4 linked regions of the Homo sapiens genome follow. The protein of the gene in region 4 interacts with the protein of the main gene of each other region in a pairwise test. Each region holds a gene or a part of one and is shown on either strand. Other genes may lie near its edges. The genes, in order: BFSP2, LSM1, P4HA3 and MCCD1.

What was found.
Region 1: the proteins of MCCD1 (region 4) and BFSP2 interact in binary tests that used the Homo sapiens proteins (3 or more experiments, as listed by UniProt).
Region 2: the proteins of MCCD1 (region 4) and LSM1 interact in binary tests that used the Homo sapiens proteins (3 or more experiments, as listed by UniProt).
Region 3: the proteins of MCCD1 (region 4) and P4HA3 interact in binary tests that used the Homo sapiens proteins (3 or more experiments, as listed by UniProt).

The regions. Positions count from the first base shown.
Region 1 is NC_000003.12:133,471,874-133,477,419, forward strand, and holds the end of BFSP2 (phakinin), read left to right. Parts: intron 1-471; coding exon 472-692; coding exon of another isoform or gene 693-696; intron 697-3,095; coding exon 3,096-3,099; 3' UTR 3,100-3,335; downstream 3,336-5,546.
Region 2 is NC_000008.11:38,161,306-38,167,853, reverse strand, and holds the end of LSM1 (U6 snRNA-associated Sm-like protein LSm1), read left to right. Parts: intron 1-4,013; coding exon 4,014-4,184; 3' UTR 4,185-4,515; downstream 4,516-6,548. UniProt on the Homo sapiens protein: Plays a role in the degradation of histone mRNAs, the only eukaryotic mRNAs that are not polyadenylated. Probably also part of an LSm subunits-containing complex involved in the general process of mRNA degradation.
Region 3 is NC_000011.10:74,273,526-74,283,418, reverse strand, and holds part of P4HA3 (prolyl 4-hydroxylase subunit alpha-3 isoform 1 precursor), read left to right. Parts: intron 1-3,966; coding exon 3,967-4,031; intron 4,032-6,274; coding exon 6,275-6,434; intron 6,435-9,811; coding exon 9,812-9,874; intron 9,875-9,893. UniProt on the Homo sapiens protein: Catalyzes the post-translational formation of 4-hydroxyproline in -Xaa-Pro-Gly- sequences in collagens and other proteins.
Region 4 is NC_000006.12:31,523,131-31,532,523, reverse strand, and holds MCCD1 (mitochondrial coiled-coil domain protein 1 precursor), read right to left. Parts: upstream 3,563-9,393; 5' UTR 3,510-3,562; coding exon 3,339-3,509; intron 2,778-3,338; coding exon 2,589-2,777; 3' UTR 2,292-2,588; downstream 1-2,291. Other genes in the region: spliceosome RNA helicase DDX39B, read left to right, coding at 1,119-1,228, 1,327-1,471, 1,598-1,745, 2,074-2,090.

The sequences.
Region 1 (5,546 bases), on a different chromosome or scaffold from region 4:
GTTCCAGCCAAATGATGGATGGGGTTTCAGCAGCAGAGGGAGAAGGGGTCCCCCGGGGAGTGAAGAAATCAGAAGAAAAAGCCCCGGAGAACAAGATTTCTTTGAAGAAACGCCTGCAAGCTGCCTCTCATTTGTCTCTCTCAATCCCTATCCCTCTTGCCCCGCTCCTCTCTCTCCTCACACCCCCTTTCTTTTCTCCCTCCCTCTCTCCTTCTCTTTTTCGCCTCCCTCACCCTCTCTCCCATCAAAAAGATCAATCAGACTAATCCACAGTCTGACCTGAGTGGGATTCCTTATTTTTCCCACGGAGCCACTAAGAATAACCCCCATCAGTCTCCATAACTGGCAAGGTCCCTGCCACGAGGGGAATAGTCCAGGCTACCACCAGCCCCTGCCACTGCTCTGCACACCTCCCTCTTCAAGGGCCCGGCCTGTTGTCCTCGGGTTTGGACCGGGTTCGCTCTTTTGTAGAAACGAGGCCTGGAGAACACCTTGCACGATGCCAAGCACTGGCATGACATGGAGCTCCAGAACCTGGGCGCTGTGGTCGGCCGGCTGGAGGCGGAGCTCAGGGAAATCCGAGCGGAGGCGGAGCAGCAGCAACAGGAGCGCGCGCATCTGCTGGCCCGCAAGTGCCAGCTGCAGAAGGACGTGGCGTCCTACCACGCCCTGCTGGACAGGGAGGAGAGCGGGTAAGCCTCGCTTCCGCGTCAATTATCCAAGAGATGCATATTCATGGCTTTAAAAATAATTATTTTCCAAACACTGTAGAAGTATTTAAGAAGAAATCACCCCAGACTTCCTCTCACATAGGCACCCATTCCCACAGCCTAGCTGTGTCCTTCCTTTCCTATTCACATACAAATAATATATATAATATATTCACATACTAATACATTTTCTATATGTATGCATATTTATGTATGTATATATACACACATACATTCACATACATGTGTATACCTAGGACGTACATAATAGCTGTTAGGAATGTTTCAGTTGCTTGTAATAGAACCTAATTAATGAGGCTATAAACCAGTGCTCCTGAAACTAATGTGCACTCAAAACCCTGCGCATCTTTTTTTTTTTTTTGGATACAGGGTCTCGTCTCGGTATGTTGCCCAGGCTGGTCTCGACTCAAACCCCTGGGCTCAAGTGATCCTCTCACCTAAGCCTCCAGAATAGCTGGGGTTACAGGTGTGAGCCGTGACACCCCAGCTGGGCATCTTTTTTAAATGCAGATTCTGCTTCAGTACGTCTGGGGTGGGGTCTGAGAGTCTTCCTTTCTAACAAGCTCCCAAGTGATGACTATACTGCTGCTCCACAGACTACACTCTGAGTAGCAAAGATGTGTAAATCATTTATTTAAGAGTCCCAGAAACAGGTGATCTAGGCTGCTCAAAGATTTCATTAAGGACTCAAGCTCTTTTCATCTTTCTAACATACCATGACAACATTGGCTTTTTGTCTTTATCTTTGTCACCCCATGGTTACCATATGCCAGCCACAGATCCAAACATCACATCCTCATTCCTGGCCGGAAGTGGGAGAGAAGAGGCAGCAGCAAAAAAAAAAAAAAAAAAAAAGGCTTTTTCTTTTTTTTTATTGATCATTCTTGGGTGTTTCTCGCAGAGGGGGATTTGGCAGGGTCATAGGACAATAGTGGAGGGAAGGTCAGCAGATAAACAAGTGAACAAAGGTCTCTGGTTTTCCTAGGCAGAGGACCCTGCGGCCTTCCGCAGTGTTTGTGTCCCTGGGTACTTGAGATTAGGGAGTGGTGATGACTCTTAACGAGCATGCTGCCTTCAAGCATCTGTTTAACAAAGCACATCTTGCACCGCCCTTAATCCATTTAACCCTGAGTGGACACAGCACATGTTTCAGAGAGCACAGGGTTGGGGGTAAGGTCACAGGTCAACAGGATCCCAAGGCAGAAGAATTTTTCTTAGTACAGAACAAAATGAAAAGTCAAAAGGCTTTTTCTTGAATGATCCTCTCCTTTAATCAGTGAAGGAAAGACATTTTGAGGCTTGCAGTGGACTGTCCCTTATATCTCATTGGCCAGAACCTGCTTATACTGGCCATACCCATCTGCAAGGGAGGCTAAGAAAGCAACTCTTTAGCTTTTCCAGACTCCATAGTGGAGGCAGGCAAGGGGTTGGGACTAGGAGTTGAGTTAGTCTGCCATAATTACACACACACACTTGCACTCACTCTTTTTTTAATAGATAAGGATTCCAGAGGCATATACATCAGCCTTGGGCCTTAGCTTCCTTGCCAACTCTTTCCAGAAACCCAGGCCCTTATTTTGTATCATAGTTCTATGCCTTCTTATTTCCCTCCAAGACTCCTTGTCTGACATATGTTGAATAAGGAATAGAGACAGCTTAGTGATTGTATCATCCAACCCCTCCTGATTCAAGAGAGAACACAAAGACCCAGAATGGAAAAAGATTTGCGCATGATCACACAGGAGGCGGAGACAGCACTGGGATGGGAGCCCAGGTCTCCTGCTCTCTCCAACTGTGTAACCTCTCTTTATTCAGAAGGCGGGAGAGCCTCAAGGAAGCGACCTAACCACGCCCTGCTTTCAAATGGAAAATATGTCATCCAGCTCCTCTCCAACTGTCTTTTATTGAATTGATTTTTGTTGATTATAAAAGCCAGATGTTCCTAACAAAGTATTTTTTTTTCAGATGCCTATGAGCATCTGTATAAACACACAAAGTCAATTTAAACAAACAGCAAGAGCAGTGAGTTAGGCCGAGTTACTTCTTAAGAATCTATGTGCTACGTTCATTTAGTGAGTGCCAAGGCAGACCTGACTCTTGATTATTTTTGTTTATCCTCCAAACCCTGCCAAGACAACCTCATGATCCGTGTTTTAGAGACAGGAAACAAAGCCTCAGAGAGCTTAAGTCATGGCCCAAGGTCTCACAGCAAATAACCATGGAGTAATTATTTAAAACCCAAAACTATCTTGTTCCAAAGGCCAGATTCTTTCATGAGATGGCCCCCTTTCTCGTAATCCTATTGTGATAGAATGACCGATTTTCCTCACCCATTGCTTCTGACTCCTATGTGTTTCCTTTCAGCTGATGGAGAAACTTCCTCTTTTTCATGAAGAAAACACCCTTCCTCAACAGCTGACCCAAGAAGTTGCTTGAGGAGCTTTCTCCTGAGCTCCAGTCCCTGCTGGATTCCCTGGTTAATTCAGCTTGAGCTGAAAAGCTTCCTGGAAGTGGAGAGGATCCTTCTGCTTTAATCTGAGTAGTCTGTAGCTTGAGCAATCTCCCTTGTCCTCCTTCAAATAAATGCTTTGTGCGCAGCGTCCAGTTTGCCCACCTTGTTCAACTCACTATAGGGTCGAGATGGATATCACTTTGTCTGTCTGGCCTTTGCTCACAGAGCTATGCTTGAAGGCTTCTGGAAGGATTCCCTTGAGTGTGACGCCATCTGCCTCCCTAGGGTCACCTGCTCTTGGGTTTGTCAACATAAAAGTGCTGCGGAGGCAAAAGCAGTGCTCATGGCATGCAGGATTGACGCAGTCTGGGACAAAAAACAACACTCTTGCTCGAGAGGGGATTAGTGTGGTGCTTTATCACATGTTTCATAATTACAGGCATCGTGGAGTATTCAGACCTCTTTAATATACTCTGCATGCATATTCATGTGCAGACACACACATTTCACTTGCTATTGGCAGAGCATCTCTCAATCAGTTAAAAGGGAACTTCAATCTAAGCCCAATCTAAACCCATTCAATCTAAGTGGGGGATTAATTACACTGTGGTTGCTCACCCCACTTACAGCCTCAGAATTTTCTTCCAGGGTCCTTTCTCCAGTTCTCTCAGGGCCTAAGCCAGCCAAATATAGTTCATGCATCTGCCACCTACCCAGGCAAGACTCTCTTGCCTTCTGATTAAAATTGAAACCACCACCTGTGTCCTACCACAGGTTCTCAGTGTCTCTAAAACTGAAAGGAAAAAAAAAAAAAAAAAAAGCCCAACTTTAATTTTGTCATTCCTCCCTCAAACTTCTGTTGGTCTACCTATCACACAGAATTACAGACCAAAATATCCAAGCTGAGTCTTTGTGTTTGTGAGCTGCTAATCCAGACAGGGGGATGTATCCAACACTGGTACATTTGAAAACCCCCATACCCGAGGGTCCAAATAACCAAGGCCCACACAAAGAAAAGAACATTTATTTATCCTTAAGGATTGCTTATAAGAGAAGCAAGGTGGCCAGGCGCGGTGGCTCATGCCTGTAATCCCAGCACTTTGGGAGGCCAAGGTGGGCAGATCACAAGGTCAGGAGTTCGAGACCAGCCTGGCGAATATGGTGAAACCCCGTCTCTACTAAAAATACAGACGTTAGCCAGGCTTGGTGGCGGGCGCCTGTAGTCCCAGCTACTCAGGGGGCTGAGGCAGAAGAATCGTTTGAACCCAGGAGGCGGAGGTTGCAGTGAGCCGAGATTGTGCCACTGCACTCCAGCCTGGGCAACAGAGCAAGACTATCACACAAAAAAAATAAATAAATAAAAGGCAAGATATATGGTATCCTGGTTGGAATTGCTACAACTGGTTTTCCTTTTTGGCCTGCAAGAGCAAAGGAATTGTATTAAAGATCACATGAGCAGAACCACTATTTACAATGTGCATAGCCCCTTGACATAGGTCAGTTTGTTGTTTGAGACATGGAAATAGGCAAGACACCCTAAAACTACATTTTAGCAAAGTATCCATCTCCATAGCTGCACACTATGGGGCTGCCCATAATTGAACCGCCTGGGTACAAGAGTCTTGCCAGAAAACAAAGTGGGTGGCTGGCCTTGCTATGTTGGATGCACAAGACACTGACGTCTGTTTCTTTTCTGTCTTTCTTGTTACTATTAATTTTTGGTCCCTCAGGCAAGACCTAAATTCCTAACCTAAATGTAGCTGGAGGCTTCAAAGGTGACAGTCCCCAAAAGGTCAGCCATCAAAAGGAGGTACTTCTATGACCGAATGGCCATGCAGTTTTTAGAACCTGGAAGTCGTTTCAGCCACTGGAAAGACGGGAGAATGTATCTGCGCATCCTCCTGAGTTTCCACCAGACAGCATGCTGTGCAGGGCTGCACACACTTGGTCTCCTCCGCACCATCATCTCAAAGAGCAGCTGCCGTAAATCATTCAGTTAATCACCCTTTGGCAGGGAGAGCCGTGGCAGACTGGTGCTTCCAGTTCCCAGCACAGGCTCTTGCTGTTTCTAATGAGGCTTCATTAACAGGTATGAGAAGGCACTGCTGGCCCCCCAACTCTGCCAGGGCCTCGTTTAAATCAGGCTTCCTCTCACAACATCCCAGTACAATTACGCTTTGGCAGTGGTTCACTGACAGGTGGCAGGGGAGGCTGCTGCTTGTATTGGTGTCAAGGACAGAGCATTTGTTCTGGAGCAGACCAGAGCAGGGCTCCCAATGGACACCTCCTGAAACACAACCGAGCTCTATTTCCACACCAGGCAACTCCACTGGCCTCTGGCCTAGCTTCTGAAGGGCTGTGTG
Region 2 (6,548 bases), on a different chromosome or scaffold from region 4:
TAGATTCAAACTCCTAGGCTTAGGCAATCCTCCTGTCTCAGCCTCCCAAGTAGCCGGGACTATAGGTACATGCCACTGTGCTTGATACTGCCAGTATATAGGGGAGCTGACCCATCTCTGCATGGTGGGGTTATAGATGATTTTTAAAAATACTTTTCTGAATTTAATTTTGAAGAGGCAACGTATCAGAGGAAAAAACTTAAGTTAAAATACTGGGGTGGGTGCAGTGGCTCACGTCTGTAATCCCAGTACTTTGGGAGGCCGAGGCAGGCAGATCGCTTAAGCTGCAAGAGACCAGCCTGGGCAACATGGCCAAACCCTGTCTTTACAAAAAAATACAAAAATTAGCCAGGGGTGATGGTGCACATCACCAGTCCCAGCTACTTGGGAGGCTGAGGTGGGAGATTCACCTGAGCTCAGGGAGGTCGAGGCTACAGTGAGCCATGATTGTACCACTGCACTCCAACCTGGGTAACAGAGCAAGACCCTTTCTCAAGAAAATATTCACAGATATGCTTCTGTTTTATAGTAGTAAACATAGCAGACATGCTTTTTATACTGGTTACATTGGCACAAAGTTACATCTAAGTAGATGTGTGTGTTTGTGCAGAGAAAGAGGTGAACGTGTTTGTTCTTGAAGTTTAATTGTTTCCTTGGATCCCTTTTGTGAGGAAAAGTTCCCTTTTTTAAAAAAATATGTTATGGTTTGGATGCTGCAGAAGTTTTACAGGGGTACCACTACAGAAACTTGGTTCCAGGAATGCCTGCATTGTTATGTGAATCAGCAATCAGGAGAAATTATGTACCAACCCCAGAGGAATTCATACATAGAAATCAGTTTCTGTAAACACTATATTGGTTAAGAAATCCCTGAATTCTGCCTCAAGGACGATGATGATGACACAGCATTAAGTAATAAGACTGTTGGGAAGAAGCAGCAACAGCAGCATGAATTGCTTAGCAAGTCACATACTGAAAAGCCCAAGAGGCAGTGCATTAGGCCGAGAACACTGTGCTCTCTTTAGCTGCTACTCATGGGTTGGGAGGGCAGGTGGTAATATATACTTTGCTGGGTGCTGTTAACTTTGGACCTAGAGCAGGGCTTGCTTATGTAATTTGTGTGGCTTTCATTGTAACTTCTGTGGTGAGAGTCCTCTCTGACTGATAATGCCACTGCCTGTGAGTTCTGAGACCTTGGCAGCATGTGGTAATAGTATGCAGGGCAGAGCATCTGGAGAAGTGTGTCAGTACCGTCCCAAACTTTTATCATTGAAAGTCATAGAGGAGGGTAAGAAACAGGAATACTTTGTATAGGCTTTCCATCTTACAAAAACACCAAATAATACCTGTACATTCATTTTAAGGACAATAAACTGAATCTATGGACAGTGAGATACTTTTTTAGCAAGGTTCTTCTGCATTATGACATTGGTTAGCAAATGTTTATAAGGGCCAGGCACAGTGGCTCACACTTTGGGAGGCCAAGGCAAGAGGATGCTTGAGGCCAGAAGTTTGAGACCAGCCTGGGCAACATAGCAAGACCCCATCTCTACAAAAAGAAAAAAGATTTAATGCCAGATGTGGTGGCACATGCCTGTAGTTCCAGCTACTTAGGAGGCTGAGGCAGGAGGATCACTTCAGCCCAAGAGTTTCAGATCATGGTGAGCTGTGATTGTGCCACTGCACTCCACCCTGGGCAACAGAGCAAGATCCTGTCTCTAAAAAAATGAAAAATGTGCTCACATTGGCAGCACATCTACTAAAATTGGAACAACACAGAGAAGATTAGCACGGCCCCTGCTTAAGGATGACACGCAAATTCATGAAGTCTTCTATATCTTTAAAAATAATTAATGAAAAATGTTTATAAAACATTCAAAAATAAAAATATTAAGCATACTATGCCACATTTAAGTGAAAAAACGAATTAAAGTCAGTATTTGCATTGTGGGTTTTTGGGAGGGGTTTGTTTTTGAGGCAGCGTCTCACTTTGTTATCTAGGCTGACTGCAGTGGTGTGATCACAGCTCACTGCAGCCTCAAACTCCTGGGCTCAAGTGATCCTCCCCCCTCAGCCTCATGAGTAGCTGGGACTATAGGTACACGTTACCACGCCCAGCTAATTTTTTATTTTTTACTTTTTTTTTTTTTTCCTTTTGAGACAGAGTCTTACTCTGTCGCCCAGGCTAGAGTGCAGTGGTGTGATCTTGGCTCACTGCAACCTCTGCCTCCTGGATTCAAGTGATTCTCGTGCCTCAGCTTCCCGAGTAGCTGGGATTACAAGTGTGAGCCACCACACCTGGCTGGGTTGTTTATTTTTTTTAAGTCAGTATATATGTAGAAAAATTGTAGGGATATTATCAAAATGTTAATCCTCCATACTGGAATTATGGATAATTTTTAAATTTTCCTTGTTTGTCTATTTTCCATATTATCTACGATGAGTGTGTATTTTTTAAATAAGGAATTTTTTATTAGGCAACAATTTTTTGTTTTTTTTTGAGATGGAGTTTTACTCTTGTCACCCAGGCTAGAGTGCAATGGCGTGATCTCCGCTCACTGCAACCTCCGCCTCCCAGGTTCAAGTGCTTCTCCTGCCTCAGCCTCCCAAGTAGCTGGGATTACAGGCACCTGCCACCACGCCCAGCTAATTTTTTTTGTATTTTTAGTAGAGACGGGGGTTTTGCCATGTTGGCCAGGCTGGTCTCGAACTCCTGGCCTCAAGTGATCTGCCCGCCTCGGCTTCCCAGTGTGCTGGGATTACAAGCGTGAGCCACCATGCCCAACCTAAGCAGCAATTTTTTAAATAGTGGAGAAAAATATTGGGACCAAATTGGTTTAGTAACCTAAATGGTCTGCCGAGGTTCTCCCTAGAAGACTTGTTGCCGTAAAGGGAAAAAGAGTCTTGTTACAGTTTAGATCTAGACTACAGAGCTGGTACGGTGGCGCACACCTGTAGCCCCAGCTACGTAGGAGGTAAAGGCAAGAGGATCCCTTTTTATTTTTGTCTTTTTACTTTTTTTGAGACGGTCTTGCTGTTGCAGAGGCTGGAGTGCAGTGACACATTCATGGCTCACTGCAGCCTTGAACTTCAACCTCCCAGGCTCAAGCAGTCCTTCCACCTCAGCCTCCTGAGTAGCTGGAACTGTAGGTGAACACCACCACACCAGCTTTTTTTTGTTTTGTTTTTTGGTGGAGTTAGTTAGGGTCTCACTGTGTTGCCCAGGCTGGTCTCGAACTCCTAGGCCCAAGTGATCCTCCCACCTCAGCCTCCCAAAGTGCTGGGATTACGACTGTGAGCCACTCCACCCGTCCTTAAAATAATTAAAAAAAAAAAAAAGTCTAAGGCCACATTGCCTCAATAACCTCCCTCTTGGATTCTCTGCAGTGGGGGAGATAGCTGTCTATAAGCAGCCCTAATTTTTTTTTTTAAGGAAATTAATCGTGGACTAATAGAAAATTAATCCTGACTAATATGGGATTTTGGATCACATAAAGCTCTGTTATACAAATACTTATTACTGCCTATAATCCCAGCACTTTGAGAGGCCAAGGCAGGCAGATCATGAGGTCAGGTTTCGAGACCAGCCTGACCAACGTGGTGAAACCCTGTCTCTACTTAAAATACAAAAATTAGCCAGGCGTGGTGGCACGTGCCTGTAATCACAGCTACTCAGGAGGCTGAGGCAGGATAATCGCTTGAACCCAGGAGGTAGAGGTTGCAGTGAGCTCAGATTGCGCCACTGCACTTCAGCCTGGGTGACAGAGAGACTCCATCTTGAAAAATATATACATATACTGATCACTATTAACCTCATTGTAAGTATGTATCCTATAGTAGTGTTGTCAGGCATTTCTTTGAAAAACTTACCGGTCCCTAGGAGAAGGATATTTCAGTTCCTGTCACAGTTATGAAAAATAATCTGAGCCTGATAGAGGAATCCATTTGCCTTGAGATCTGTGCTTTCTATTCTTGGTCTTCAGGTGAAGTTTTCAAACCTGTCTCTTTTGTAGGACTTGGAAAAGGAGAGTGACACACCCCTCCAGCAAGTATCCATTGAAGAAATTCTAGAAGAACAAAGGGTGGAACAGCAGACCAAGCTGGAAGCAGAGAAGTTGAAAGTGCAGGCCCTGAAGGACCGAGGTCTTTCCATTCCTCGAGCAGATACTCTTGATGAGTACTAATCTTTTGCCCAGAGGCTGTTGGCTCTTGAAGAGTAGGGGCTGTCACTGAGTGAAAGTGACATCCTGGCCACCTCACGCATTTGATCACAGACTGTAGAGTTTTGAAAAGTCACTTTTATTTTTAATTATTTTACATATGCAACATGAAGAAATCGTGTAGGTGGGTTTTTTTTTTAATAACAAAATCACTGTTTAAAGAAACAGTGGCATAGACTCCTTCACACATCACTGTGGCACCAGCAACTACTTCTTTATATTGTTCTTCATATCCCAAATTAGAGTTTACAGGGACAGTCTTCATTTACTTGTAAATAAAATATGAATCTCAAAAGTGTCATGTTATTTCCAAGTTTGAGTTACCTGTAATGAATAGATTAATAGATTAATTAAGTTTCTGCTCTCAAAGGTATAAGCAGTCCACATACTGGGATTTCCCCCTTCAGTCACAGTTTCAAGTAGCTGGCTACTTAGGAAGGAATATTTTTATTCCAGTCATCTCAGGGGTCCTCTCCTGTTTCCATGTTTGTATCTGTTAAGAAATACAAATGTTCGGCAGGGGCGGTGGCTCATGCCTGTAATCCCAGCACTTTGGGATGCCGAGGCGGGTAGATCACCTGAGGTCGGGAGTTGAAGACCATCCTGACCAACATGGAGAAACCCTGTCTCTACTAAAAATACAAAATTACCAGGGCGTGGTGGCGCATGCTGTAATCCCAGCTACTTGAGAGGCTGAGGCAGGAGAATCACTTGAACCTGGAAGGCAGAGGTTGCGGAGAGCCAAGATTGCACCATTGCACTCCAGCCTGGGCAATGAGCGAAACTCCGTCTCAAAAAAAAAAAAAAAAAAATATAAACGCTCAGGCGTGAGGAGGGAGCTTTCAGCTGTTTCCCAGTTACTGGTTACTGCAGAAGACTCATGTTTGAGAAACGACATCATGGTTGCTCTTGCTCCTGCTTCGCCCATGGCTATTCCAAACTAAGTCCCCACGAGACCCAACATGTTCTTACAGTGGCTTGTTCTCCAGGTTTTCTGCTAATTTAATTAGGTGTTCTAGTCCTTTGTATTGAGTCTTGAGTATCTTAACGTTCTCATCAAAAAGGAACATAAATGGTATTGTAGTGACTGAAAGCCCATAGTGATGGCACTTTGTGTGACTGTCGAAGAGTAGGGATTGCATGAAAAGCTTAACAGATTTGTACTTCAAGAAGGAAGCATGGGCCGGGTGCAGTGGCTTACACCTGTAATCCCAGCACTTTGGGAGGCAGAGGCAGGTGGTTCACCTGAGGTCAGGAGTTCAAGGCCAGTCTGGCCAACATGGTGAAACCCCGTCTACTAAAAATATAAAAATTAGCATGGTGGTGCATCCCTGTGATCCCAGCTACTCGGGAGGCTGAGGCAGGAGAATTGCTTGAACCCGGGAGGCAGAGGTTGCAGTGAGCTGAGATTGCACCACTGTAGTCCATCCTGGGCGACAGAGTGAGACTCTGTCTCTAAATAAATAAATAAAGGAATCATGGTTTAGTAGACAGTGGGCTCAACTAGGAGTTAGGAGATACCGTGTGAAATTGGCAATTATTGGCAGATTAGGCTTGAGTAAGTCATCCTCTGATTCTCAGTAATTTTAACTGATTATTCCAGGTAGTTCCTTTTTATATTCTGTTAAGCAAAAATGTTATTTTCATAAATTTTATATCTAATTTGTATGTGTGTGATTTATTATTATTATTTTTTTTTTCTTTGAGACAGAGTCTTGCTCTGTCGCCCAGGCTGAAGTGCAGAGGTGCGATCTTGGCTCGCTGCAACCTGCACATCCCAGGTTCCCCGAGTAGCTGAGATTATAGGCACGTACCACCACACCCCTCTTTAATTTTTGTACTTTTAGTAGAGACGGGGTTTCACCATGTTGGCGTGGTGGGTTCCCGAACTCCTGACCTCAAGTGATCCTCTGGCCTCGGCCTCCCAAAGTGCTGGGATTACAGGCATGAGCCACCACGCTTGGCCTGTATGTGTGTGAATTATTTTATAGTATTAACATTTTATGAGCTCAGGGGTTTTTAAAACTGCCCAAAAGGCCTACAAACCATTTGACTTCTGAACTGTTCATCATTGGGCTGATTTTATAGTAGGTAACTTATGAGGAAACTATTGCACTTAATGGCTTATCTAATGTTTTGCCCATCTTACTGTTTAATAGAATGTATTATTAACTACCCACATAAAGAGAAGAAATACCAACTTTTGAAAAACGTGTGACTACAGTAAGATACTCTGAAGTTCAGCAGAATGACAGCATTTGTTTTTCAGAGCCCCACTGCTTCAAAACATGTGACACCTCCAAGAAATGTGAATTCGTTACAGTTATC
Region 3 (9,893 bases), on a different chromosome or scaffold from region 4:
AATCTTTGCACAGAAGCTTTTTGAGATAATTAAGCCCCACTGGTGAATTGGAGCAAACAGGTTCAGCTTTGCAGTGAGCCAGCAGTAGTAGCTTTTGGCCAGCAGCTGCTTTTTCCTTATAACAGCCCTGTTGCCATGGTAACGGGAGAAGTGACCCACCCAGAGACGTTGATTTAAATGTTCATGGCCATGTCGTCCATTTAGCATGCACAGATCTTGGCACACTTCCTTCCCCTAGAAGTGTCTCTCTGGGGCTGCTGATGCCTGTCTGGTCTGTGGCTCTCCCAGGAATCAGCCCTGGACTGACATGGTAGTGGCTTCCCCATGGGAACTGAAGACAGATGCCTCAGTGGCTTGTGTTGAATATCTCTGCTTCCTAGTCACTGTCCCTTTCCCAAAGCACACTCACTCATCACTTCTCTCTCTCACCACATCCTGCCCATCTTTGAAGACTCAGTTGAAGCCCTGCACCTTCGCTGGGCCCGCTAGCCCTGATCATTCTGGCCTCCTTTGGTTCTTTTTCAGAGCACTTTTTGGAGCCATATACAATTACCTATTCCTCCTCTGAACTCTAAGCTTTTTCTCACTGGTTGTTTGGTACTTAATTTTTAAATGTATTCTGCCATTTATGTGTTGTTTGACATCACTGACAGTTTCCTGGGTCAGCATCCTGTCTCCCCAGTCAGACTGTAAACTAGCAGGCATCATCTTTCTGCAAATGCCTTGCCCCATGTTCTTCCCATTGCTGCCAGAGTAAATCTTTAAAAGGTCAGGTCTGACCACTCAAGCCCTTGCTGAAACTCTTCACTGGGTCACTTTTGCCTTTGAGTGCTTACAAGTCTCCATGGCCTGGCTGCTGCCAACCCCTTCTACCACATCTCCCCCGGCACTTGACGCTCCAGCTGCACACTCTTCTGTCTGCCTGGAACGAACTGCCCTTGACTTCTCACCTGTATGATTCCAGTGTGTCTTGTGGACATCCTGGAAAGACTCCCTGTCCCTCATAAGAATGGGCTATGTGTCCCTCTTTCTATTGCCATGGCATTCTATACTTGCCTATTATGGCCCCATTAGATGTCTTAGGGGCAGGGACATTGTCTGGATTAACATTGTTTTTCCAGTGCCTAGCACAGTGCTTAGCACAGAGAACAACCAATAAATATTTGTTCCAAAAAACGAGTGACTGGTAGGTAGACAATTAATGATTGTTACAGGAAATAAATATAAGGTGACTCCTTAATTTGGGATGGGGGGGATTCCTTAGGGTTTTTTTTTGTTTTTTTTTTTTAAACCATTGATTTTGCCCTAAAAGAACAGAAGGGAGCATCTCTCTTCTATGAGTTTCTCCTCTACAAATGGCTCAGGACAGGACACCAGGGACAATGGATGGAGGCAACATCAATCCCCTTCTGATTTCCTGCTTCCTAAGATTGTAGAGCCACATGTGAGAGGAACTCGCAAGCACATGTTGTTCATAAGCTGCATTTTATTTATTTTTTATTTTTTTGTCCCAAACTTTTATTATTATTATTATTATTATTATTATTATACTTTAAGTTTTAGGGTACATGTGCACATTGTGCAGGTTAGTTACATACGTATACATGTGCCATGCTGGTGCGCTGCACCCACTAACTCGTCATCTAGCATTAGGTATATCTCCCAATGCTATCCCTCCCACCTCCCTCCACCCCACAACAGTCCCCAGAGTATGATGTTCCCCTTCCTGTGTCCATGTGATCTCATTGTTCAATTCCCACCTATGAGTGAGAATATGTGGTGTTTGGTTTTTTGTTCTTGTGATAGCTTACTGAGAATGATGATTTCCAATTTCATCCATGTCCCTACAAAGGACATGAACTCATCATTTTTTATGGCTGCATAGTATTCCATGGTGTATATGTGCCACATTTTCTTAATCCAGTCTATCATTGTTGGACATTTAGGTTGGTTCCAAGTCTTTGCTATTGTGAATAATGCCGCAATAAACATACGTGTGCATGTGTCTTTATAGCAGCATGATTTGTAGTCCTTTGGGTATATACCCAGTAATGGGATGGCTGGGTCAAATGGTATTTCTAGTTCTAGATCCCTGAGGAATTGCCACACTGACTTCCACAATGGTTGAACTAGTTTACAGTCCCACCAACAGTGTAAAAGTGTTCCTATTTCTCCACATCCTCTCCAGCACCTGTTGTTTCCTGACTTTTTAATGATTGCCATTCTAACTGGTGTGAGATGGTAACTCATTGTGGTTTTGATTTGCATTTCTCTGATGGCCAGTAATGGTGAGCATTTTTTCATGTGTTTTTTGGCTGCATAAATGTCTTCTTTTGAGAAGTGTCTGTTCATGTCCTTCGCCCACTTTTTGATGGGGTTGTTTTTTTCTTGTAAATTTGTTTGAGTTCATTGTAGATTCTGGATATTAGCCCTTTGTCAGATGAGTAGGTTGCAAAAATTTTCTCCCATTTTGTAGGTTGCCTGTTCACTCTGATGGTAGTTTCTTTTGCTGTGCAGAATTTAGATGGGGAAACAGGCCCAAGGAAAGGAAGAGGCTTTTCCAAGACTGTCTATCTGGTTTAGCAGGAGGGACAATGACATTATGGAAGCTTCAGAGAAGGGAAAGAGCTTCTGTCTGTGTAGCTCATTGCCCCAGGCACTGCTCTGCCTGCCTGTGAAGCACCAGAGCTGGGTCTGAGCCCTGTGAGTACCTTTAAGGGCAGTGCCCTATTTCATTCATTTGTTTATTTAACCAGTACTAAGCACCTACTCCACCACCAGGTGTTGAATGGACCCTGGGGATACAGCACTGAAAAAAGGCCAAGTCCTTGCCCTCATGAGCTGACATTCTGATGACAGAGGCAGAAGTAGACATGTTTACCCTCATATAAATAAATAATATTTCTCTTTCTGTCCCTGGATTTTGCAATTAGGAGACACTTTATTTAAAAATAATTTAGGCCCGGTATGGTGGCTCATTCCTGTAATCCCAGCACTTTGGGAGGCCGAGGTGGGAGGATCCCTTGAGACCAGAAGTTCAAGACCAGCCTGGGCAACAAAACAAGACCCCGTATCTACAAAAACATTTTTTTTTTAAATTAGCCAGGTTTGGTGGCATGTGCCTATGGTCCCAGCTATTTGGGAGGCTGAGGTGGGAGGATTGCTTGAGTCTAGGAGTTGGAGGCTGTAGTGAGCTATGATCGTACTAGTGCACTCCAGCCTGGGCAACAGAGCAAGACCCTGTCTCTAAAGATAATAATAATAATAATTTAAATGCTATACCTAGACATTCAGAACAAAAGAGAGGCATTTAGTTAAACTAGTGTTATCAAAACTGTTGTTGTCTTTTCATAATCAAGGCAGTTGCAGCTATGAAAATCTCACAAGTACCCTCAACATCTGTAACTATTATATATCAATTTTTTAAAAAAGTGGTTGTAGCAAAAACAGACTCTGATTCTCTGTAAGGAAAGGCTTTCATTAGAATATTCAAAAGGAGCAGGCTGCCTCTGAGTGTAGAGAGTTTCCTGTTGCTGGAGGTGTTCATTTAATTCGACAAACACTTACGAAGTGCTTACCATAGGTCAGGCCCTGTGCCTGACCCTGGGAAACAAAGACGAATGAGAAATAGCCCCTGTTCTTACCTAACTCACAGTCTTACAGATACAAAAGGGATTCAAATAACAGTTAAATTCAACTCAGCAAACTTTTATTGAGTGCTTACTGTCGACTAGACACAGTGTTAAAGGTTATTTTCAACTCTACGATCTTTGGTCACTTATGATCTTTTATTTTCAGGATTGATAGCTGTCACTAAATTAGTCCCACATGCAAAATGTCCTCTAATTAAGGAGGAACTGGCATCTGTTATGTTGATGCTTAAGAGAGAAATATGTCTGTGGAAGTGACAAAACTTTCCTTTTGCATCATAACCACTTGGACTTTGTCTTACATTCTTCCCACCAGCTACAGAGGTCAGTGGTGGCATCAGGGGAGAAGCAGTTACAAGTGGAGTACCGCATCAGCAAAAGGTAAGAAGGGCCCTTCCTTGGTCATACCTGCTGCCCACCCTCGGGCCGTAGCATAGCTGACTGCCAGTCAGCAACAGCCATTCAGGGACCTCCAGAGGTGGAGAATCCCTAGTTCACGTTTATAGCTGTACATTCTTTTTAAGAGGGTGAAGTTTCCACTCCCCTTTCCCAGGTTGTTAGATCATCTGAGGGTTTAACTAGAAGGCCATTCGAGAGAGACTTGGAAGAGCTCCTCTGCCCTAAACCAAAAAATATGTCTATAGTTGTTCTCCTAAACAGGATTGCTTTTCCAGAAGATACAGTCCTGTCCACATTTGTAATTTAACTTTACAAGATTCCATTCCCACCTCCTGACTCATATTGAAAGCATGACTTGCCAAGAATGAGACCAGAAGGACAAATAGACTCTGGCCCTGATGGCTTCTGTAGAGGAGCAGATTCAGCTGTGAGAGCCCAGCTTTATCCCACCCCTCCAGCCCTGCCCACCCCCCACTGCAGCCCTTTACTTACATCCACCAAAGACATGTGAGACAGTGACGTCAGCATCCTTGGGGGGAGGCCAGACCTCAGGATGGAGATCAGTTTGTGCTGTCTGGGAAGGGAGGTGAGTGATGAAAGCTGTGATTCAGAATCATTTGGCTTAACTTACTTGGTCTGGTACATTAAGGGCCTTTCATATTAGTAGTTATTCTCTAACCTATGGAAGGTCCCTATGACCTCAGCCTCATTGCTTTTTCTAACCTTTCTGATATTCTAGTGTCAGAGAGAAAATTCAGCCTTGGGTTAATTGCTTCCAGGGGAGCAGGTGGTATTTTCTTCCCTTTTCCGAACAAGAAACTACTTTCTTTCTCCACTTGCATCACTCTTCAACTCTTTGACTTTTGGTTCTGTCCTCACAACTTCGCTGGAGCTGGTCTCCCAAAGGTCACCAGGGAACTTCTAATTGCCAAATCATTTTCCTGCTCACACACCTTCACTGAGTACCCATTATCCATAAAGTCCAGATTCCATATCACAGTGTTTTCAGTTTTCTATGTCATGCCCTGAGCCTGCTTCTCCAGCTGTATCTCCCGTTACTTCTTCCTATCTCCTTATTCATAATTTATTGCCACACCTCCATGTCTGTGCTTATGCTGTTTCTTCAGGCTGGAATACTCCTACATCTTTTCCATCTATTGAAATTTTATGCACTCTTCAAAATTTGGCTTAAATGTCACTATCTTACCTGAGTGCCCCACTGGAATGAACTTCTCCTTCCTCTGTGCTTCCCAGCACTTTAAAGTCTGTTTCTCAATTTTTCACTGTACCTTACTTTGTTCTTAGTTATATTTGTGTTTGTCCTTTCCCCCATAATCCATGAGCTCTTAGAAGGCAATAGCTCTGTCTTGGGGATCTCTGTAACCTAAGAGCATGTGGCATAGCACTCTGCTTGCACTCTATTTGAAAGAATGAACACACTAATCCATCAAAAGCAAAGAGCAAAGAAATGGTCTTCCATATCATGCCAAGGCTGTTCCCTCAGAGCCTTATCGTCTCCCCAGGAGACCCACTGGCTTTAGGGAGCACTTTCTCACTTCCCAGGGACGTAAATTCTGATTCCAAAGTTGCCACTTTGTCAGAACCTCAACAAGACATTCAGGAAAAGAGACTGAACTCTGCTGTTTGGCCTTTGCCCTATCCTGGCTTGTCTTGCAGTAGAGCAGAGATTTTCCTGTGTTTAAAAGTAACACTAATGTATAGTTCACAAAGTGTCTTCATAAGCATTGCCTCTCACAATCTTTATAAGTCTGTGAAGTAGATATTATTATCATCCCAATTTTATAGACAACACACTGACCCTTAGAGAGGTTAATGGTTAAATACTTGACTTAGGATCACAGAGGATCAGGGACTCGTCACATTTCTCTAAATCACAAGCTTTTCCCACTGTACCCGGGTCCCTCTGTTCAGATGTCTCTACACCATAGCAGCTTTGAAGGCAGGGGTTTTGTCTTATTCCTCTTTGTATCTCAATGCTGTGAGTTTGTTGAGGTAGAGAACAAAGTGGACTGGGCAGACTTAACATGAGGAATGCATAGGTAATTAGGCATTTATGTCTGTCTTCCCTCCCTCTCTTTCCTCCTTCCTTCCATCCTTCCTTCTGGCAATTAACATAATTCATTTGTTTATTCATTCATTCAGAGACGTCATTTAGTCATTTCGGGCAACAGATCATTGATGCTTCAATCTGTGGTGTGTTTTAGTGCCTGGCTGAAGGACACTGTTGACCCAAAACTGGTGACCCTCAACCACCGCATTGCTGCCCTCACAGGCCTTGATGTCCGGCCTCCCTATGCAGAGTATCTGCAGGTGGTGAACTATGGCATCGGAGGACACTATGAGCCTCACTTTGACCATGCTACGGTAATGGTGGAGTCAATGACCAATCCCCTGGGGTAGGGAGCCAGGGCATTATTTATTTCTCTGAGGCAGAGCTCTTGTAGGCTCTCAGGGAATACTAAGTGAAATCTTAGAACAAAGGTTCTTTTTCCAGAAATATCTGAAAGCCTTAGTTTCAAGCATATTGTTGCTGACTCATTTTCTTGTCTGCCACCATCTCCCTTCTAAAATTTGCTGGTGAGGGAAGAATGTGGCTTGTCATGGAATCATCGGACTGCTCCACTCAGGGACTTCCTAGTGAGGATTGTCCTTCCTCCAGTAACTCTTCTAGCCTCATGATCTCAACTGGCCATCTTTGCTGATAATAGCAAATAATTTTTTTAAAATTTTAGATTCATGGGGTACATGTGCTTGTTTTTTATTTACGTATTTATTTATGTATTTATTTTTTTCTTTATAGGCAGCATCTTGCTCTGTTGCCCAGGCTGCAGTGTAGTGGCACCATCATAGCTCACTGCAGTCTTGAACTCCTGGGCTAAGTGATCCCCCCATCTCAGCCTCCCAAGTAGCTCTAGGACTACACCTGGCTAATTTAAAAAAATTTTTTTTGTAGAGACAAGGTCCTGCTATGTTGCCCAGGCTTGTCTTGAGCTCCTGGGCTCAAGCGATCCTCCCACCTCAGTCTCCCAAAGTGCTGACATTACAGGAGTGAGCCACTGCACCCAGCCATACTTGTTATATGGGTATTGCATGTGTAATGGTGGGGACCACACTTCTAGTGTACCCATCACCCAACTATTGAATGTTTTACCTGACACGTAATTTTTGAACTCTCACTCCCCTTTCACCCTCCCCCATTTTGCAGTTTCCAGTGTTTGTTACCTCCATCTTTATGTCCATGTGTACCCATTGTTTAGCCCCCACTTATAAGTGAGGACATGCAATATCTTATCTTCTGCTTTTGAGTTAGTTCACTTAGGATAATGGCCTCCAGCTCCATCCATGTTGCTGCAGAGGAAATTATTTCATTCTTTTTATGGCTGGATAGTATTCTGTTATGTATATATACCTTATTTTCTTTATCAAATCAACCATCGATGGACATTTAGGTTGGTTCCATGACTTTGCTGTTGTGAATAGTGCTGCAATAAATATCTGGGTGCAGGTGTTTTTTCTGTAATATAATACTTTATTTTCCTTTGGGTAGATACCCAGTAGTGATTTTTGAGGATTAAAATGACCTCCCCAAAATTGATCTATAAATTGAACCCCAGCTTTATAAAAATTCCAGGAGGTTTATTTTTGTAGAAATTAGCATGCTGATCCTAAAATGTATATGGAAATGCAAAAAACCTAGAGCAGCCAAAACAATTTTGAAAAAGAAGAACAAATTGGAGGACATACACTATCTGATCTCAAAACTTAATATAGAGCTACAGGAATCAAGGCAGTGTGGTACCAGTGTAAGGAGAGACACATATGTCAATGGAACAGAACAGAGTCCAGAAACAAACCAACACATTTATGATCAATTGGTTTTGACAAAGGTGCCAAGGAAATTCAATGAAGAAAATACAATCTTTTCAATAGACAGTATTGGAACAATTTAATATCTATCTGCAAAATAATAATGACTTTACACCCTTACCTTACACCATATATGAAAATTAACACAAAATGGGTCATAGATGTAAATGTAAAACTATAAAACTTCTAGAAGAAAACATAAGAGAAAATTTTTGTGACCACAGGTTAGGCAAAGATTTCTTAGATATGACACCAAAGTATGATCCATAAAAGAAGAAAACAACTGATAAATTGGACCTTATCAAATTAAAATTCTTTGCTTTTCAAAAAACATCATTAGAAAAGGAAAAGACAAGCCACCAACTAGGAGAAAATATTTGCAAATCATATATTTGGTAAAGAACTTGTATCCAAAATATCTATAGAACTTTTATAACTCAGTAATAAGATAATTCAATTTTTTTTAATGGACAGAAAGTTATTTGAGTAGGCACCTCTCCAAAAAGGATAAATGAATGGCTAAGAAACATATGGAAAGATGCTCAACATCATTAGGGAAATGCAAATTAAAACCACAATGAGATAGCACTGCACTCTCTTATGATGGCTACAATAAAATAAGATTATACCAAGTGGTGGTGAGGATGTGGAGGAACTGAAGCTCTCATACACTGCTAGTGGGAATGCAAAATTATACAGACACTTTGGAAAAAAGTTTGATGGTTTCTTAAAAAGTTTAAGATTCACCTACTTATGATCCAGCCATTTCACACCTATGTATATTACCCAAAAGAAAAAGAAAATATGTCTCTACAAACATTTGTACAGAAAAGTTTATAGTAGCTTTATTTGTAATAACCAAGAATTGGGGCTGGGCACGGTGGCTCATGCCTGTAATCCCAGCACTTTGGGAGGCCAAGGCAGGCGGATCACGAGGTCAGAAGATCGAGACCATCCTGGCTAACACAGTGAAACCCCGTCTCTACTAAAAATACAAAAAAAAAAAAAATTAGCTGGGCATGGTGGCAGGCGCCTGTAGTCCCAGCTACTTGGGAGGCTGAGGCAGGAGAATGGCATGAACCTGGGAGGCAGAGGTTGCAGTGAGCTGAGATCACGCCACTGCACTCCAGCCTGGGCAACAGAGTGAGACTCCATCTCAAAAACAAAAAAAAAAAAACAAAAAAAAAACCAAGAATTGGAAACAGCCCAGATGTCTGTCAACAGGTGAACGGATAAACAAATTTTGATATATCTGCACAATGGAATGCTATAGAGAGAAAGCAGATAAGTGGGTTGCCTGAGGTTGGAGGTGAGAGCAGGGATTGACTCCTAACTGGCATGAAGGAGCTTTTCAGCAGATGGAAGTGTTCTGTGTTCTAAACTTCAATTGTGGGAAAACTCATTGAACAGTAGGCTTACAAGGGGTGAATTTTATGGAATATAAATCATATCTCAAACTGTTCCATGACAAAAAAAAAAGAGTATGTCTCTTCAGCAAGTAATTGGAACTCTGGCCTTATGATTTGGTATTTCTACAGAATAATTGTCTGTAATATTTTATATATTAATTTCTATATTTCACAGAGAACTCAAAGGTGCAATTAACCCCTCATATAGTACTTTCACTACTGACAAGTAGTTCTGTTTGGTAGTAGACAATTCTTTTATATAAGTATCTAATAAATTAGTAAAAAAAAAAATTGTATTGAGTACCTGCCAGCAAAGACGGGCACATACTCCAGTAGGTGTATATCAGAACTATATCCCATCTTTGATGCCCCCATTTTACTTCTATTTGTATTAATAGTGGAATCCTGCCTGTCCCTCTGGTGCCATCTGCATAAAATAATATGTTCTGTTTTTTTTTTTCTCAGTCACCAAGCAGCCCCCTCTACAGAATGAAGTCAGGAAACCGAGTTGCAACATTTATGATCTATGTGAGTATTGCTCTGGGCT
Region 4 (9,393 bases):
TTATGTGTGTAATCCCAGCACTTGGGGAGGCTGAGGGAGGTGGATCACTTGAGTCCAGGAGTTTGAGACCAGTCGGGGCAACATGGCGAAACTTCATCACTACCAAAGAAGAAAAAAATTAGCCAGGTGTGGTGGTGTATGCCTGTAGTCCCAGATACTCTGGTGGCTGAGGTGAGAGGATAGCTTGAGCCCAGGAAATTGAGGCTGCAGTGAACTATGATTGCACTACTGTGCTCCAGCTTGGGCAACAGAGTGAGATCTTGTCTCCAAAAGTCCTTGAAGGATTTTAGGAAGTTGTTAAAAGTCTTGAAACGATGTTTGGGGGCATGTTAGGGTTCTTGAATGTTTAATTCCTCTAATAACTGCTTATTCAAGAGAAGCATTTCTGACTGGGTGCAGGGCAGTGGCTCATGCCCATAATCCCAGTACTTTGGGAGGCTGAGGCAGGAGCATTGCTTGAGCCCAGGACTTCAAGACCAGCCTGGGTAACATAGGGAGACGCCCGTCTCTACAAATAGTAAAAATAAAAAATAAAAAAAGTAGCTGGGCGTGGTGGTGTGCACCTGTGGTCCCAGCTGCTTGGGATGCTGAGGTGGAAGGATCTCTTAAACCCAGGAGGGTGGAGGCTGCAGTGACTTGCGATTGCACCACTGCACTCCAGTCTGGGGGACAGAGTGAGACCCCATCTCAAAAAAGTGTTTAATTAATATACTTGTGAGTGGTCTATTTGCATTTAAAACTGCTTTCTAGAATTAGGATAGCTCCCTTAGGTTTAATGTTTTGGTGAGCAGGAATATCAGTTACCCCTCCAGATCTTAATTCTAGTTTTTTATCACTTTTTCATGAGGTGATCTCATCCTCATCTCCTAGCATGTCTGGCAATTTTGATTTCTGAACTCTGTGCTACCTCAGAGGCCAGCTTCCTTAGGGAAAAATCAGTGCTGAAGTAAAGTTATATTTCCTTTTCTGCTCTAAATATATAGTGGGGGAATAAGAGAAATGAAGAGGAATTCCTGAGAACGTAATTACTAGAAACTCCCCTCTCCCACGTAATGTCTCTCACACACCATGGACCCCTATTCCCCCAATTTGCGACCCCCCACCCCACCCCACAACAGGTGGTGATCTTTGTGAAGTCTGTGCAGCGGTGCATTGCCTTGGCCCAGCTACTAGTGGAGCAGAACTTCCCAGCCATTGCCATCCACCGTGGGATGCCCCAGGAGGAGAGGTGAGCTGAAGATGGGAAAGATATTTTGTGTCCTTGGGAGAAAAAGACAGTTGAGAGAAGGGAATCTCAACATGTTTTAAATTTCCTTTCTCACAAAGGCTTTCTCGGTATCAGCAGTTTAAAGATTTTCAACGACGAATTCTTGTGGCTACCAACCTATTTGGCCGAGGCATGGACATCGAGCGGGTGAACATTGCTTTTAATTATGACATGCCTGAGGATTCTGACACCTACCTGCATCGGGTAAACCTCACAGGCTGAAAAAATCCCACTCTCCCATTCCCTTGTTTTCTGTTTGTACATCTTCATTCCTGCCTCTGGGTCTCTTTCCTCTTCGGTCTTCCAGTGCTACCCTCTGTCTCCCTCCAGGTGGCCAGAGCAGGCCGGTTTGGCACCAAGGGCTTGGCTATCACATTTGTGTCCGATGAGAATGATGCCAAGATCCTCAATGATGTGCAGGATCGCTTTGAGGTCAATATTAGTGAGCTGCCTGATGAGATAGACATCTCCTCCTACAGTGAGTACTGATCTCATGAAACCCTTTAGGTCCTCCCTGTTCCTTAGTGTGTTTGTCCGAAATCCCATCACATAGGTCATGGGCATCTGATGCATAATGGACACTTGACTGGTTCATGCCCCCTGGTCTTTGATGCTGTGTTGGGATGTTTTTCTGACCTTTATGTGGGGTGTCTTGTCTTCTCTCATCATATTACATCCCTTCCCTCACCCCCACGTCCGTCCTCTGAACCCAGGCAGTACACCAGTGTCTGCATGTGTGCCGTGTGTTCCTGCCTCACTTTCCCCTTTTCATGCCTTATTCTGACCATGCTACGTTTTCTTCTCAGTTGAACAGACACGGTAGAAGACTCGCCCATTTTGGAATGTGACCGTCTGTCCTTCAGGAGAGGACACCAGGGTGGGGGTGAAGGAGACACTACTGCCCCCACCCCTGACAGCCCCCACCCCATGGCTTCCATCTTTTGCATCACCACCACTCCTGAACCCCCATTTCTGATTTGTCAGAATTTTTTTTTAACAAAACTAAAAATGAAACACATGTGTCTGTGGTATCTATAAGTGCTTCGTCCCTTTATTGTATTTGGGGTGAGGTTATTTTAGGGCATGGTCCAGGGTGAATTCCTATAAGGCCTGGGTGCCCTGCCTGCTGTGAGATCAAAGGGGAATGGGACTAAGACTGCAGAGCCCTGGCTCCCCCACTGCCTGCCAATTGCCTGCGCTTTGTGGTCTCTTCCACTTTCTCTGGCCTGGGAAGACGCTGGGGTGTTTATGATCCCAAGGCTCCTGGTGGGTGGTGCGTGTATTTTCAGCGCCGGAGGGTGCTGTGGGCACTGGGGGAAACTTAGGCGCCTCCTCCAAGGCTCTCTTGGTGCCTCCTCATCTGTTCCTTCAGCTTCTGGATCTTGAGCACCAGGGCTTGGGCCTCCCAGGCTCCCTCCTGCCCTTCAAGGAGGGCCTGGTACAGCTCCAGCTGCTGCTCCAACAACTCTTCAGCTCGGGCCAGCTCAGCTGTGCGGTGGGTCCCAGGGCCCTGGTCAGGGAATTAAGGGAGGGAGCATCAGCCAGGGCAGGGGGCTGAGGCCCTGGGAAGCTTTGTTGCAGGCTGTGGCTGGAAGTGAGAAATTCCACCTTCCCTATTCGTTTTTGAACCGGTCGTTTAAGGACACCTGTACTGAGAAGGCCAGGTAGCTTCCTGTCTTGGGCATAGGCCTCTGGGTGGTAGTAGGGGGAGCAAATAGAGTTCCCTGGCCCAGGGGCTGTAACTGGCTTCCTTGAACAAGGATATGGGGTCACTGGAAAGAGGATCAGCTGCTCCTCCCCGCTAAGAAATAATTAACTGTTAGGTGAGGGGGAATAGATCCTGTTCAAGGACTTTGTGGACTGTGCTGTTGTGGGTGGGGGTGGGGTGAGGGAAGGGAACCCTGAGGTCTGGGCTGGGGGAGGTGGGGAGAGGAGTTGGTAGCTGAACTAAGAAAAGAGCTGCAGGGGTAGGCATGGTGTGGGGTGGTGCAGGGTGGGATTGAGGGTTTTTTTTTCCCACACCCCAGTGTAAATTCTCACACCCTCTGTTCCTACCTGTGGTGCCACTTACCCTGGGAGGGGACGTCATCTTCCCATTTCCTCTGGAGCTGGTCTGCTCTTCCATGCTTGCTTTGGGGTTTTGGGAGCAGCACCCATGGGAGCCCTGGGGTGCCAAGGACCAGGAGGGCAGAAGGAGGCGAAGGAAATGGTACCGAGAGAGCCAGGGCAGAGGGAGGACCATGGCGGGTGACCTGGCAGGGAGCTGTGTGAGCTGTCCAACGGCCACCAGGAACTGGTTCGCTCCAGGACTTGGCCTCACTTGAGTGCCTGGCCCTGCCCAGGCCCCAGCCCCCAGCCCTGCCCCTGCCCCTGCCCCACTCTGCCCCACGTCTCTCCCAGCCTGGCCCCAGACAGAGTCCAGGAACAACTCCTGTTCCTGATGTGAAAAATGTCCCTGCCAGTTTAGGCAGAACTTGCTTTAGAGCACTGGTGCCCAGCCTACCACAGGTCTGTGATTTTTTTTTTTTGATCTAGTGTTTATTAGGTATGAATTTTACAAACATTAGCGGTAGCTGTGGAGCTGGAGAGTATTGCACCTTCTCCAAGCTGCATGGCGAGAACCACCAATAGTGTGGTAGAACTTACAGCCCTTTCCAAGGCCGTGGCTCTCTTGGCCTGCAGATAGCCTACGCATCTCCCTATGCTTGTTGTGGACCACTGGGTGTCAGGTTTCCTTCTGATAGTGTTATGGAATGGATCAACTAGGATAGCCTCAAAAACTTTGTATGTGGAATCTTTAACCAGCCCAGTGAGAATTCAGGACTCAGAGCCCCACAGTGGCATCCAGCTTGCTCTTCTGTAACAGACTGAAGGCTTTAAGCAAACTAGCTGGTTAACACCATGATAGACAGGCTTGCTGTTAAGTTGCCTTCTTAGGAACTAGATTTTCAGCCACCGTGGCGCTTATATGTAACATAACCTTGCTTGGCTGTAGCCCAGTAGCGTGCTTTATTGGGCTGGGTGGGGCGGGGATCCCTGTGGAGAGCAGAGAGCTGGTGGTACTGCCAGCAGCGGACCCTCAGAAGAAAGCTCATGACATCAGACTGCTTCTTCCATAGCTTCTGGATGTACTTGTATGCACCATCTTGGTTTACCCAGTGGCTGCTGCCAGACAGAAAGGAAAGGCTACCACAGGTCTTGTGTCTTTTTTTTTTTTTTTTTTTTTTTGAGACGGAGTCTCGCTCTGTTGCCCAGGCTGGAGTGCAGTGGCGCAATCTGGGCTCACTGCAAGCTCTGCCTCCCGGGTTCACGCCATTCTCCTGCCTCACCCTCCCGAGGAGCTGGGACTACAGGTGCTCGCCACTACGCCCGGCTAATTTTTTGTATTTTTAGTGGAGACGGGGTTTCACCGTGTTAGCCAGGGTGGTCTCGATCTCCTGACCTCATGATCCGCCCGTCTTGGCCTCCCAAAGTGCTGGGATTACAGGCGTGAGCCACCGCACCCGGCATTTCTTAACACTGTCTTTTCTCACTTCACTCTGCAAGGTAGGAATTACCTCACTGGTTTGCACCTGAGGAAACTGGCTCAGATGGTTTCATTCAGCATTCACTGGGGAAGTGTCTGTTGGGGGCAGCTCTAGGCTGGATGTGCTCGAAGGTCCATAGCTGGTTGTTGGTAGGGCCTGGAGGGTTCATGTCTAGGTCCACCTGACTTGAAAGCTCATCCTGACCTTGCTTAAGTGCTGATTCCCCTTTGCAGATGTACCTTTTATTGTGCTTCCCTTTATTGCTCTTTGCAGATGCTGTTTTTTATTTAGAGATTGGAGGCTTGTGGCAACCCTGTGTCAAGCACATCAAACAGGTCTATTGGTGCTATTTTCCCAACAGCAGGCAGACATCATGTCTCCATGTCACGCTGTGGAATTCTCAAAATGTTTCAAGCGTTTTCATTATTATACTTGTTACAGTGACCTGTAATCAGTTACTGAAGTTAACTATTGTGATTGTTTTGGGACACCATGAGCGATGCTCATATAAGACAGCAAACTTAATGGAAAAATGTGTGTGTTGTGACTGCTTCACCAACTGGCCATTCTCCCGACTCTGCTTTCCAGGCCTCCCTATTCCCTGAGGCACAACAATATTGAAAGGAATAATCCATGCGGCAAATGGCAAACATCATTGTCTTATTTTAAGAAGTTGTCAAAGCAGCCTTCAGCAGCCATGCCCCTGATCCATGGAGGCAAGACCCTCCCCCAGCAAAAAGATCAGGATTAGCTGAAGCCTCATATGATGGTTAGCATTTGTTTAGCAATTAAGTATTTTAAAATTAAAGTATATGGCCAGATACAGTGGCTCACGCCTGTAATCCCAGCACTTTGGGAGGCCGAGGTGGGTGGATCACTTGAGGTCAGGAGTTCAAGATTAGCCTGGCCAACATGGTGAAACCTCATCTCTACTAAAAATACAAAAATTAGCTGGGCATGGTGATGGGCACCTGTAGTCCCAGCTACTTGGGAGGCTGAGCAGGAGAATGGCTTGAACTCAGGAGGCGGAGGTTGCAGTGAGCCAAAATCGTGGCACTGCACTCCAGCCTGGGTGACAGAGCGAGACTCCATTAAGTATATACACAGTTTTTTGTACACAATGCTACTGTACACTTAACAGACTACAATATAGTACAAACATAACTTTTATGCACAATAGGAAACTAAAAAGTTTGTGTGACTCACTTTGTTGCTATGGTCTGGAAACAAATCTTCAGTATCTCCGAGGTATGCCTGTCATTTCCCTTTCCCTCTTCTTGCTGGCCCAGAATGACCTTGTTTCTTGCCCCTGTCTAGCCCTGCATGCTGTAGGGGTTTGCCTTCTCTGGTAGGTCTGGGCACTTTGTATCCCTTGTAACCTTGGCTCCTGGGATATGACACTGGTACAACTGGCCTCAAGTTCTGTTGGACTAGTGAGCCTCCCCCAACACCTCCTGAAGTAGAACCAAAGGCCTGTGCACACACCGTGCATGTGTGAGTCTGCATAGAGATGTCAGCTTCCTGCAGGGTGTTCTGAAGGGATGTCCTGTTGTGACTGGACTGTGACATAGCCACAGGCCCAGAGGCAGGAGTGGCTCAGAAGGGAGTGGCTGGTCCCAATTTTGATCATCTAGGAACAGGAAGGTCCTTAGAAAACCATGCCCCAGAAGGCAGGATTGCTGGAGAGTGGACAGCTGCTAGCCAGCTCGCTATCTGGATATCACTCTGCATTGGGAGGGAAGATGGCCTCTGCCATGGTGTAAGAGTCCAGGAACCAGGCAGTGAGGACTTCCCAGCGGTCAGTGCTTCTCACACTTGCGGGCCAAAGCACCTTTAGATGAGGCCAAAGACTTTACGTTCCTCATTAGCTGACTTTTTCCCACTTAAGTGGAAAAAGAACCCAGAACCTTTGTAAAAGTTTAAGGGGAGAAGGGCTTTCCCTCTTGTATCTTGGTGATAAGGTTATGCATGACTCATACTTTAATTGCAATGTGTACACAGCTAAAGTCTTAATTATTAGAATATAAGAGCCCCAAACTACTGTTATTATAGATAAGCGAAACTATGCAGTATATGGTTAAACAAACCACAACTAATTAACATTGAAAGTTGGCCGGGCGCAGTGGCTCATGCTTGTAATCCCGGCACTTTGGGAGGCCGAGGCAGGGGGATCGCTTAAGGTCAGGAGTTCAAGACTAGCCTGGCGAACATGATGAAACCCCGTCTCTACTAAAAATACAAAAAATTAGCTAAGCGTGGTGGTAGCCACCTGTAATCCCAGCTACTTGTGAGGCTGAGGCAGGAGAATTGCTTGAACCTGGGAGGCGGAGGTTGCAGTGAGCTGAGATTGTGCCACTGCACTCCAGCCTGGGCGACAGAGCAAGACTCCGTCTCTCAAAAAAAAAAAAAAAAAAAAAAAAAAAAAAAAAAAAAGAAAAGAAAAAAAATTAACTACATTTTTGGGAGGTGGACAGAGCAATGCTCTGTCACCCAGGCTGGAGTGCAATGGCACAATCTCTGCTTGCTGGAACCTCCGCTTGCCGGGTTCAAGCAATTCTTATGCCTCTGCCTCCCAAGAAGCTGGGATTACAGACGTGTGCCACTATGCCGAGCTAATTTTTGTATTTTTAGTACAGACAGGGTTTCACCATGTTGGCCAGGCTGGTCTTGAACACCTGGCCTCAAGTGATCCGACTGCCTCAGCCTCCCAGAGTGCTGGGATTACAGGTGTGAACCACCGTGCCTGGCCCTCTATCTGTTAATTTAAAAGATTAGCAGCCATTTAGAAAAAACAACAAATGAGACTTTTGCAAGACAATCTAAATGATACACTAATAACAATCCTTTGGGAAAGTGACATTTCAACCATGTGAGTTTCTGCTTTAGGTTATGAACTCCAAAATGGACTAAATGGACTAACCCCCAATAATTTATAGTAGCTAGTTTTTTTTTTTTTTCACAGTAGGTAATTCTAAACCATAAATAAAATAGAATCTGAATTTTGGCTTTGTTCACCTGTGGGAACTTAATTAAGAAAGCACTGGCCTTTGGGTCGGTTCAAATATAGTGGATGAGGCCAGGCGCAGTGGCTCACACCTGTAATCTCAGCACTTTGGGAGGCCGAGGCGGGCGGATCATGAGGTCAAGAGATCGAGACCATCCTGGCCAACATGGTGAAACCCCGTCTCTACTAAAAATACAAAAATTAGCCGGGCATGGTGGTGCACGCCTGTAGTCCCAGCCACTCGGGAGGCTGAGGCAGGAGAATCACTTGAACCCGGGAGCCAGAGGTTACAGTGAGCTGAGATCATGCCACTGCACTCCAGCCTGGCGACAGAGCGAGACTCTTGTCTCAAAAAACAAAAAACAAAACCAAAAAGAAAGAAAACCAAATATAGTGGATAATCGTGGATCTCATAATTGTAGAAATGAAGGAATTAAGCTAAAAAAATACATAAACCAGAATACCTAGTGCTAAAGTGGAATGTCCCCACCAAAACTCATGTTGACATTTAATTGCTATCCTAATGGTATTAAGATGCAAGACTTTTTTTTTTTCTTTTTTTGAGATGGAGTTTCGCTCTTGTTGCCCAGGCTGGAGTGCAATGGCACAATCTCAGCTCACTGCAACCTCCGCCTCCCATGTTCAAGTGATTCTCCTGTCTCAGCCTCCTGAGTAGTTGGAATTACAGGCACATGCCACCACGCCCAGCTAATTTTTGTATTTTTAGTAGAGACGGGGTTTCATCATATTGGTCAGGCTGGTCTTGAACTCCTGACCTCAGGTGATCCACCTGCCTTGGCCTCCCAAAGTGCTGGGATTACAGGCATGAGCCACCGTGCCCAGCCGATGTGGGACCTTTCAGGGTTGATTAGATTGAATAGATTAATGCCATTGTATGGCATGATAGAAATCAGTTCAGCCTCTTTGCCCTTCCACCTCTCACTATGGGATGATACTGCAGCCAGGCCCTCATAAGATGCCAGTGTCATGCTCTTGGACTTCTCAGCCTCCAGCTCTGTGGGAAAAACATTTATTGTCTTTATAAATTACCCAGTCTGTGCTGGGTGTGGTGGCTCAAGCCTGTAATCCCAGCACTTTGGGAGGCCAAGGTGGGTGGAAGGCTTGAGCCCAGGAGTTTGAGACCAGCCTGGGCAACATGGCAAAACCCATCTCTACAAAAAAACACAAAAATTAGCTGGTGTGGTCGTGCGGGTCTGTGGTCCCAGTTATTTAGGAGGCTGAGGTGGGAGGATCACTTGAGTCTGGGAGGTGGAGGTTGCAGTGAGTCGAGATCATGCCACTGCACTCCAGTCTGAGCGACAGAGAGAGACCCTGTCTGAAAAAACAACAAAATAAATTACCCAGTCTGTAGTATTCTGTTATAGCGGCAGGAAACGGACTAAGACACATAGATTATGTTACTGTGTTTATTTATTTATTGTTGTTTTTGTTATTCCTGACTCTTAATATAGAGTCTTAATCAGATGAGCATTCTGGCCTGGTCTCCGCAGAAGGGGCCTGTCTTTAGCCACGGACAAGAGGAGATTAAGGCCAGCATCATCCACAAGGTCAAGGGGCTGCAGAGCCCCCTAAGG